Linked DNA regions of Homo sapiens: all the other regions are reported to be linked to region 2. The links are microRNA targets in miRTarBase. Many come from high-throughput screens and were not tested one by one. Region 2 holds a microRNA gene; each other region holds the end of a gene's coding sequence.

Region 1 (3,000 bases), not on the chromosome of region 2:
AGTCGACCCCATTTCCCCTTCTGCTGCAGATGCTGCTCGGTTCTCTTGTCCCCCCAACTTTACCGCGAAGCCCCCAGCCTCAGAGTCCCCTCGTTTCTCCTTGGAGGCGCTGACGGGTCCAGATACGGAGCTGTGGCTTATTCAGGCCCCTGCAGACTTTGCCCCAGAATGGTGAGTGGTCTTGTTGACGGAAAAGAGGGTCCCGGTCCAGACCCCAAGAGCGGGTTCTTGAATTTGTCACAGGAAAGAATTAGAGGTGAGTCACAGAGCACAGTGAAAGAAACAAGTTTATTGGAAACTACTCCTTTACAGAGTAGAGTGTCCTCAGAAAGCAGGGGGAGAAACCCACAGCCCTTTGTTAGTATTTCTACTTATAAGAAACTATAAGGAACTATAGTTAAACTTGGAGTGTGCAGATAAGCTCACTAAAGGTAGGGGCTATTGGTGTTATCCACGACCATTAATCCTGCAACCTAAGCTTGCTCATTTATGTTATATTTAAGTAATGGGGGCTGCATTCTTAGGACATTTGGACATTCTGCAGGCTTGGTGGAACATGTTCTGTATGGCCATAAATATTCTGTAATTATAATTGGTGGTCAGCCTGGGATGTGGTTATTTTCAGGCCATAAGCATGAACCTTGTAAGTGCCTAGCTACTCACTTTAAGATGGAGTCACTCTAGTCATGTTTTATTAAAAACCAGAGGCCAGCCAGGCGCAGTGGCTGGTGCCTGTAATCCCATCCTTTGGGAGGCCGAGGCGAGCAGATCACTTGAGGTCAGGAGTTCAAGACCAGCCTGGCCAACATAGTGAAATTGTCTCTACTAAAAATACAAAAATTGGCTGGGCGTGGTGGCAGGTGCCTGTAATCCCAGCTACTTGAGAGGCTGAGGCAGGAGAATCGCTTGAACCCAGGAGGTGGACATTGCAGTGAGCCGAGATCATGCCACTGCACTCCAGCCTAGGCAACAGAGCAAGACTCTCTCAAAAAAAAACAAAAAAAAAATCAAAAAACCTTCCCTCTCCTGTTCCACTTAAGCCTCTGCCCTCCCTGTTTCTCTCTGTAGCTTCAATGGGCGGCATGTGCCTCTCTCTGGCTCCCAGATCGTCAAGGGCAAATTGGCAGGCAAGCGGCACCGCTATCGAGTCCTCAGCAGCTGTCCCCAAGCTGGAGAAGCGACCCTGCTGGCCCCCTCAACGGAGGCAGGAGGTGGACTCACCTGTGCCTCAGCCCCCCAGGGCACCCTAAGGATCCTTGAGGGTCCCCAGCAATCCCTGTCAGGGAGCCCTCTGCAGCCCATCCCAGCAAGTCCCCCACCACAGATCCCTCCTGGCCTGAGGCCTCGGTTCTGTGCCTTTGGGGGCAACCCACCAGTCACAGGGCCTAGGTCAGCCTTGGCCCCCAACCTGCTCACCTCAGGGAAGAAGAAAAAGGAGATGCAGGTGACAGAGGCCCCAGTCACTCAGGAGGCAGTGAATGGGCACGGGGCCCTGGAGGTGGACATGGCTTTGGGGTCGCCAGAAATGGATGTGCGGAAGAAGAAGAAGAAAAAAAATCAGCAGCTGAAAGAACCAGAGGCAGCAGGGCCTGTGGGGACAGAGCCCACAGTGGAGACACTGGAGCCTCTGGGAGTGCTGTTCCCGTCCACCACCAAGAAGAGGAAGAAGCCCAAAGGGAAAGAAACCTTCGAGCCAGAAGACAAGACAGTGAAGCAGGAACAGATTAACACTGAGCCTCTAGAAGACACAGTCCTGTCCCCGACCAAAAAGAGAAAGAGGCAAAAGGGGACGGAAGGGATGGAGCCAGAGGAGGGGGTGACAGTTGAGTCTCAGCCACAGGTGAAGGTGGAGCCACTGGAGGAAGCCATCCCTCTGCCCCCTACGAAGAAGAGGAAAAAAGAAAAGGGACAGATGGCAATGATGGAGCCAGGGACGGAGGCGATGGAGCCAGTGGAGCCGGAGATGAAGCCTCTGGAGTCCCCAGGGGGGACCATGGCGCCTCAACAGCCAGAAGGAGCGAAGCCTCAGGCCCAGGCAGCTCTGGCAGCTCCCAAAAAGAAGACGAAGAAAGAAAAACAGCAAGATGCCACAGTGGAGCCAGAGACAGAGGTGGTGGGGCCTGAGCTGCCGGATGACCTTGAGCCTCAGGCAGCTCCCACATCCACCAAGAAGAAGAAGAAGAAGAAAGAGAGAGGTCACACAGTGACTGAGCCAATTCAGCCACTAGAGCCTGAACTGCCAGGGGAGGGACAGCCTGAAGCCAGGGCAACTCCGGGATCCACCAAGAAGAGGAAGAAGCAGAGTCAGGAAAGCCGGATGCCAGAGACAGTGCCCCAAGAGGAGATGCCAGGGCCGCCACTGAATTCAGAGTCTGGGGAGGAGGCTCCCACAGGCCGGGACAAGAAGCGGAAGCAGCAGCAGCAGCAGCCTGTGTAGTCTGCCCCCGGGAAACTGAGGAACTAAAGAAAGCTGAAGGTGCCCACCTGGGCCACCAGAAGGTGACACCCCCAGAATCCCTCCCCAGAGACTGCACCAGCGCAGCCAGCAGGAGCCTGGCCTGGGAGGACGATTTATTATTACACTGGGGGTTTCCTTGGCAGCTGGGGTCATCAGGGTACTTTCAAGAAGGGCTCGTGCAGGACATCAAACAGCCTCCGGGCCTGGATGGGAGGGAGAAAAAAATGAGGAACCAGTCATTAAAGGAGCTGTTTCCTGGGTAAATCTAGAGTGGGGTTTTGGTTCTTTATTTTCCCCTATACCCTCAAGCATTTATCCATTGAGTTACAAACAATCCAGTTACAATCTTTTTAAGTTATTATTATTATTATTATTTTTTTTTTTTTTGAGATGGAGTCTCGCTCTGTCGCCCAGGTTGGAGTGCAGTGGCGCAATCTCGGCTCACTGCAAGCTCCGCCTCCCGGGTTCACGCCATTCTCCTGCCTCAGCCTCCTGAGTAGCTGGGACTACAGGCCCCTGCCCAGCTAATTTTTTGTATTTTT
Region 2 (3,350 bases):
AATTCAAAGAAAACCATGTTTATCCAATGCATTTTCCAAAAAAGGAAAAGCCTTGGCGAAGAATTTGGTTTATTCTTCTCAGAACCTAACAAAATGGGGAAATGTCCTTGATTAATTTTGTGTGTTTATAAATTAAGGTACCTTAAGTGGAACAAAGAAATACCATTTATAAATAGAAAATGTATTACAAATATGAAAGTCAATTAAGGAAATACAAAATAAATCTTTGGAAATGACTTTCATATTTTTCTCACAGCCTACCAAAATCCATGGCCAGGAGATATGTAATATATACTTGGCAGAACTTGCCTTTATAGCTTAATTTTCTGTGCCAAAGATACAGGCCTTCAGAATTCTTGTTGAGAAAATAAAAAGTAATTGTGAAATGGTTCCTCTGGCCTAAGGGATGACAACATACATCAACACCATTATACCCTCCCTACCCACCCACAAAAGTTTTTAAAGAGTATAGAACAAACAAACAAGCAAATACAACCTTAACCAACACCAGCTCAACAGATATAGTCTATAAATTAATTATCAGCAAAGGTACAAAGTATGCAATAAAGTACTTAACAATATACATTTTATTTACCTCAGTTTCTCTACTTCTCTACATCTTACCAGATGGGTTATTTGAAAGAACTCCAATCTCCTACACAAAAAAGCAGGACTCTGGCAGATTGCTAACTAGAGATTTTTGGCCCTATAGGCAAGCATCTGTGAGTGGGGCTGTGTGGGAAACAAAAATATGTTGGAAAAAGAGTTGATAGATGCCCCAGCATAAATGAGGACCCAGCAAAATCCATACTCCTGTCATGGCATCTCTGTCCATCCATTTCTGTTAGTTACCAAGGAACTAGCCCAGAGCAAGGGCAAATGGACCACAATAGCTGGAGAAGTGGGAGAAAAGGAGGTATACCTTGAAGGAGTAAACAGTTTTGGATTTGTACAATGTTTTAAAATCATTAACAGAGACATCAAATCATTAGCTGTCAACCTGGTTCAACTTACTTAGAATACGTGTTTTTTTTTTTTTAATCCCATTGGAACAGAAATGCAATATAATCATGAATTTCATCTCTTATTCTTTATGTCTATAATAAATTTTGTTTTTTCTCTGGAAGTCCTGCATAAACATAAATGGTATTCCCTCTAAATTGCAGTTATTCTCACAGCCTCTGAAACCAAGTATGGGTCGCCTTCCCGTTCTGCACCAGGTCTCACCCACGCTTGATTTCATGGGCCAGGAGAGCACATCTGGCAGATCTAACAGAGGTCTGAAGTCAGGACAGTTAGCTAGAAGGTGATAAAGGAGTAAAGCAAGAGAAGATACAATAAAATCTGTTGTATAAATAACATTTTATGTAAGAACCAGCAAATATAACTCAGGGGAAGACATTTTCAGTGCAATTTTCCATTCGGATTATCTGTACTGTATCCAAGATAATATGTAGCGACAGGTAAACATTCAACAATTCTTTCAAAATCTATTTTGTATATATTTCTTTACTGTCAATTTTCGATCATCTGGAAAATTCAACTATACAGTCTCACCCAGTGTACTTTACACCAATCGTTCTGGACTTAAATGTCTTTCTCCATCATCAAATTGTATTGACAAAGTATGCAGTTCAAGAAAGCCCTTCTAGTTTTTATGAGGTACCAAAAGGAAAATACATAAAATTACAATCTAAGATACCCTGACAACACAAAAATCCACAGAATTCTTTCTTGATACCTAAAACTTCGTATGACAAATTTGGTTTTATAAAATGTAGAGCTTTCAAAAAAAAAGCATACCATAACATTTTAAGAAATTCTAAAGTCTTGAGTAATTTGTTAATTTAGGATCTATAAATTTGTATCACAATTTTCCAACATTAAAAGAAAAATGAAAGCTAAGTAACAGACAAACCATGTTGGCATGATACTTTTAAATTTGCAAAATGCAATTATTGTCCATATAAGATTACCAAATAAAAACAAAATCAGAGTCATAGCATAGCAGAACTGAAAAATACCTCGAAATAAGCTCATAGCCTAATCCCAATAATTTAGAAATGGCAAAACAGGAGTTCTTGACCTTCATTTTAACCTGAGTTTGGAAATGCATCACTAGAGGTTGCAGGAATCAGTGACTTGCGTCAGCTCAATGTGACCAAGCTCTATGCCTCCACATATCCTCCAACAAAAATGAGAAGCTAAGGACATTTCATGACTGATCCTGAGAGTGGCCCAGAAACCTCTTTGCTCCATTGCCTCCCTGCACCTGTTCAGTTCCATTTCTACCTGGTTCCCTGCTCAGCTTCATCTCATTGCCATCAACCCTTGCATCAACACTTAAACTTGGTGTTGCCATTCTGTACCCTAGCTTTACTCTTCAGTGATCTTTTTTTCCTTCCTGAGACAGAAAGACTCATCTTGTCTGGGCCCCCCTATTTACCATAATCACCATGCCTCCCCCTCCCACCTACCTCACGAGCTCAGATCTTGGTGTCCACACGGAGCCTCTCTAGTATGCCAGCCTTGACAGACAGCACCATTGTTAACAATTTCCAGTTCTTTACAAGGTCATTGGATTTAACTCTTCAAAGCACTGTGCTTTAATTTCCGAGTGGCACTTTACCAACATTAACTTCTTTGTGGAAAGTTTTACATCAAGGTAGCATTTGCTCAAAGGGCATGGGCCACATAATAGGGACCTTCCAAGGGACCTTCATTAATGCATAGTGTGGGGTAGAGGAGTGGAACTAGTGATACAACAGATGAAAAGGAACTTTCCAAGTGGGCAATTAAAACAGGGCATTCCAAAGAGAAAGAGAGAAAGAGAAAGAAGGGTGAGCAAGTAAGAAGTATGGAAGATCCAGGAACTCCTGGAAGTTCATTATCACCAGAGAACAGGTAAAAGGGGGGACCTGGTGAGAGATCCAGAAAACTGAGGAAAGATCGGACTTGCAGGGACCATGTTGTCAAAGGCCATGCGTGAGTGCCAGGGAATTTGGATGTTTTCTCGGTAAGTGGTGAGACAGCAGAGGCTAGTTAGAAAGCTGTTGCCATTTTCATGTGAAAAATGAGAGTATAAAATCAGACTTGTGGCAGTGAAGATAAAAACAAACAAACAAACAAAAAACAACAACAACAAAAAACAATGAACACCAATAGAATTTGAGGATTGGATGTTGAGGAAGAATGCACGAGGACTCATGGGTTTCCAGCCCCCTGAACGTGGTGGTTATGACACCATTTACTCAGAGGTAAGGAGAAATCATAAAGAGATTTAAAGAAGGTAGGAAATTAGCTCAATTTTAACCATGGTAAATTTGAAGTAAATAGACTTGAAGATCCTA
Region 3 (3,000 bases), not on the chromosome of region 2:
ACCACAGCGACCTCACAGGGCACTCAAGGCAAAATGCAATCAATGCAGATATCACCCTGTTTGGGCCTTTGTCATATCCCTGGGTTTATCCTAGACTGATGAGGGAATTAGCATATGCCAGTGTAGTGAACTCATCATCCCTCCCTTCTGTCACAGATGGGAAGCGGTCTCGAGCAGAAGCCCCACTGAAGTGTCCCCTGGCAGACACCCACATGAACTCTTCCGAGAAACTCCAGTTCTATAAAGAGAAAGCCCCAGATTGCCATGGGCCAGTGTTGAAACACGAAGCTATCTCAAGCCAGGAGTCAAAGAAGAGCAAGAAGAGACCTTTTGAGGAGTCAGAGACAGAACAGAATAACTCTTCACAACCTTCAAAGCAGAAATATGTATGTCTTGCTGTGGAAGACTGGGACTTGTTAAATTCCTATTGATTAGTAGATACAAGTTGACCTTTCTCTGGCCCCCAGCTCTAGTGTTTGAGTAAAGGAGACTGAGGATGATTTACTTTTTGTTTGAATTTACCTATGGCATTAGCATAGTAAGCAGATATTTCTACTTTTGTGGTGTGGGAGGGGAATGCTATGGAAGTATGTAATAATTTCTAATGTATATTTTCAATACATAGTAATTTTTTCAAATAAACATTTTTGCTGTCCTTAAGTTCTGCTTGTGGATTATAGACTGGAGCCACAGGAAATAACACGGTTTGGGATGGAAGGCCAGGTGAACTAACAAGGCAGCTTAGCATAACTCAGAGATACTGCAGGTTTGGTTCCAGACCACTGCAGTAAAGCAAACACTGCAATAAAGTGAGTCACCAGACTCTTTCATTTCCTAGTGCATATAACAGTTATGTTTACACTATATAGCAGTCTCTTAGATGTGCAATAGCATTATCTCCAAAAAGAAAAAACATGTATATACCCTCATTTTAAAATACTTTATTGCTAAAGAAAATGCTAACAATTATCTGAGCCTTTAGCAAGTTACATTCGTTTTGTTGGTGGTTGGGGGGTCTTGCCTTTGTTGGTGGATGGATGCTAACTAATCAGGGTGGTGGTTGCTGAAGGTTGGAGTGGCTATGGAAATTTCTTAAAATAAGACAATGAAGTTTGCCACATTGATTGACTCTTCCTTTTGTAAAAGATTTTGCTAGAGCACACGATGTGGTTTGATAGCATTTTACCTACAATAGAACTTCTTTCAAAATTGGAGTCAGTCCCCTCAAACCCTGCTGCTGCTTTATCAACTAAGTCTATGTAATAGTCTCAGTCCTTTGTTATTTCAACAATGGTTACATCTTTACCAGGAGTAGATTCCATTTCAAGAAACTACTTTCTTTGCTCATCCATAAGAAGTAAGTCCTCATCCTTTCAAGTTTTATCATGAGATTGCAGCAGTTCAGTCCTATCTTCAGGCTCCACTTCTAGCTTTCTTGCTATTTCTACCACATCTGCAGTTTCTTCCTCCACTGAAGTTTTGAACCCCTCAAAATCATGAGGGTTGGATTCAACTTCTTTCAAACCCTTGTTAATGTTGATTTTTTTTTTTTTTTTTTTTTTTTTTTTTTTTTTTTGAGACAGAATCTTACTCTGTGGCCCAGGCTGGAGTACAATGGCATGATCTCGGCTCACTGCAACCTCTGCCTCCTAGGTTCAAGTGATTCTCCTGCCTCAACCTCCCAAGTAGCTGGGATTACAGGCGCATGCCACCACGCCTGGCTAATTTTTATATTTTTAGTAGAGATGGGGTTTCACCATCTTGGCCAGGCTGGTCTTGAACTCCTGACCTCAAGTGATCCACCTGCCTCAGCCTCCCAAAGTGCTAGGATTACAGGAGTGAGCCACCACACCCGGCCCTAATGTTGATATTTTGACCTCTTCCTATGAATCACAAAATGTTCTTAATGGCATCTAGAATGGTGAGTCTTTTCTAGGAGGGAAAGTTTAGTTTTGTTTTTTGAGACAGGGTCTTGCTCTGTTGCCCAGGCTGGAGTGCAGTGGTGTGATCATAGCTCACTGCAGCCTCGACCTTCCAGGCTCAGGTGGTCCTCCCACCTCAGCCTCCCAAGTAGCTGGGACTACAGGCACATGCCATTGTCACACCTGGCTGATTTTTGTATCTTTTGTAGGGATAGGGTCTCACCATGTTGCCCAGGTTGGTCTCCTGGGTTCAAGAGATCTGCCCACCTCAGCTCCCAAAGTGCTAGTATTACAGGCGTGAGCCACTGCACCTGGCCTCCAAGAGGTTTTTAATTTACTTATTTACTTTGTCCAGATCCATTAGAGAAGTCACTGTCTATGGCAGCTATTGCTTTGTGAAATGTATTTAATAATAAGACCTGAAAGTTGAAATTACTCCAGATCCATATGCTGCAGAATAGGTGTTATGGTAGCAGGCATGAAAACAACATTCATCTTGTAAGTTTTTGGGTGATCAGGTATATTGTCTATGAGCAGAAATATTTTGAAAGTGCCTCTAATTTGTGGACTACACATTGAGTAGCAAAGCTCTAGACCTTTACTGTCCAATATGTAGCTCCTAGCTACATGTAGCTATTAAATACTCGAAATGTGGCTAGTCCAAATTGAGATGTGCTATAAAATACACACTGGATATCAGATATCAAAGACTTAGTATCTAAAAGTTTGAATGAAAAATGTCTCAGCCAGGCGTGGTGGCTCGCGCCTGTAATCCCAGCACTTTGGGAGGCCAAGGCGGGCGGATCATGAGGTCAGGAGATCGAGACTATCCTGGCTAATATGGTGAAACCCCGTCTCTACTGAAAATACAAAAAATTAGCCGGGTGTGGTGGCATGCACCTGTAATTCCAGCTACTTGGGAGGCTGAGGCAGGAGAATCGCTTGAACCCGGAGGGCAGAGGTCATAGTGAGCTGAGATTGTGCCACTGCACTCCAGCCTGGTGACACAGCAAGACTCTGTCTCAAAAAAAAAAAAGTCTCCATTTTGAAATACTGGTTACATGTTAAAATGGTAATT

What was found. The annotated mature microRNA hsa-miR-551b-5p reads GAAAUCAAGCGUGGGUGAGACC and lies in region 2 at 1,220-1,241, opposite strand. An mRNA with a match to its seed (bases 2 to 7 or 8) in the 3' UTR can be bound and repressed. Matches are read on the target gene's strand: a 7mer-m8 pairs with bases 2 to 8, a 7mer-A1 pairs with bases 2 to 7 and ends in A, and an 8mer does both.
Region 1: miRTarBase lists ERCC1 as a target of hsa-miR-551b-5p. Seed matches in the 3' UTR shown: 7mer-m8 at 1,005-1,011.
Region 3: the mRNA of LRRC42 is a reported target of hsa-miR-551b-5p. Seed matches in the 3' UTR shown: 7mer-A1 at 498-504.

The regions. Positions count from the first base shown.
Region 1 is chr19:45,407,065-45,410,064 of GRCh38, forward strand. ERCC1 (ERCC excision repair 1, endonuclease non-catalytic subunit) reads right to left here. Exons shown (of 10, transcript NM_001983.4): 10 at 270-2,661. The coding sequence ends at 2,611. POLR1G (RNA polymerase I subunit G) reads left to right here. Exons shown (of 3, transcript NM_012099.3): 2 at 30-171; 3 at 1,069-3,000. The coding sequence ends at 2,437. Among named protein-coding and RNA genes, the nearest start is that of POLR1G, 1.9 kb to the left of the region's middle.
Region 2 is chr3:168,549,766-168,553,115 of GRCh38, reverse strand. MIR551B (microRNA 551b) reads right to left here and starts at 1,262; the gene lies at 1,167-1,262. It also overlaps the pseudogene EGFEM1P.
Region 3 is chr1:53,967,509-53,970,508 of GRCh38, forward strand. It overlaps LRRC42 (leucine rich repeat containing 42), which reads left to right. Exons shown (of 9, transcript NM_001256409.2): 9 at 157-660. The coding sequence ends at 431. Among named protein-coding and RNA genes, the nearest start is that of LRRC42, 23 kb to the left of the region's middle.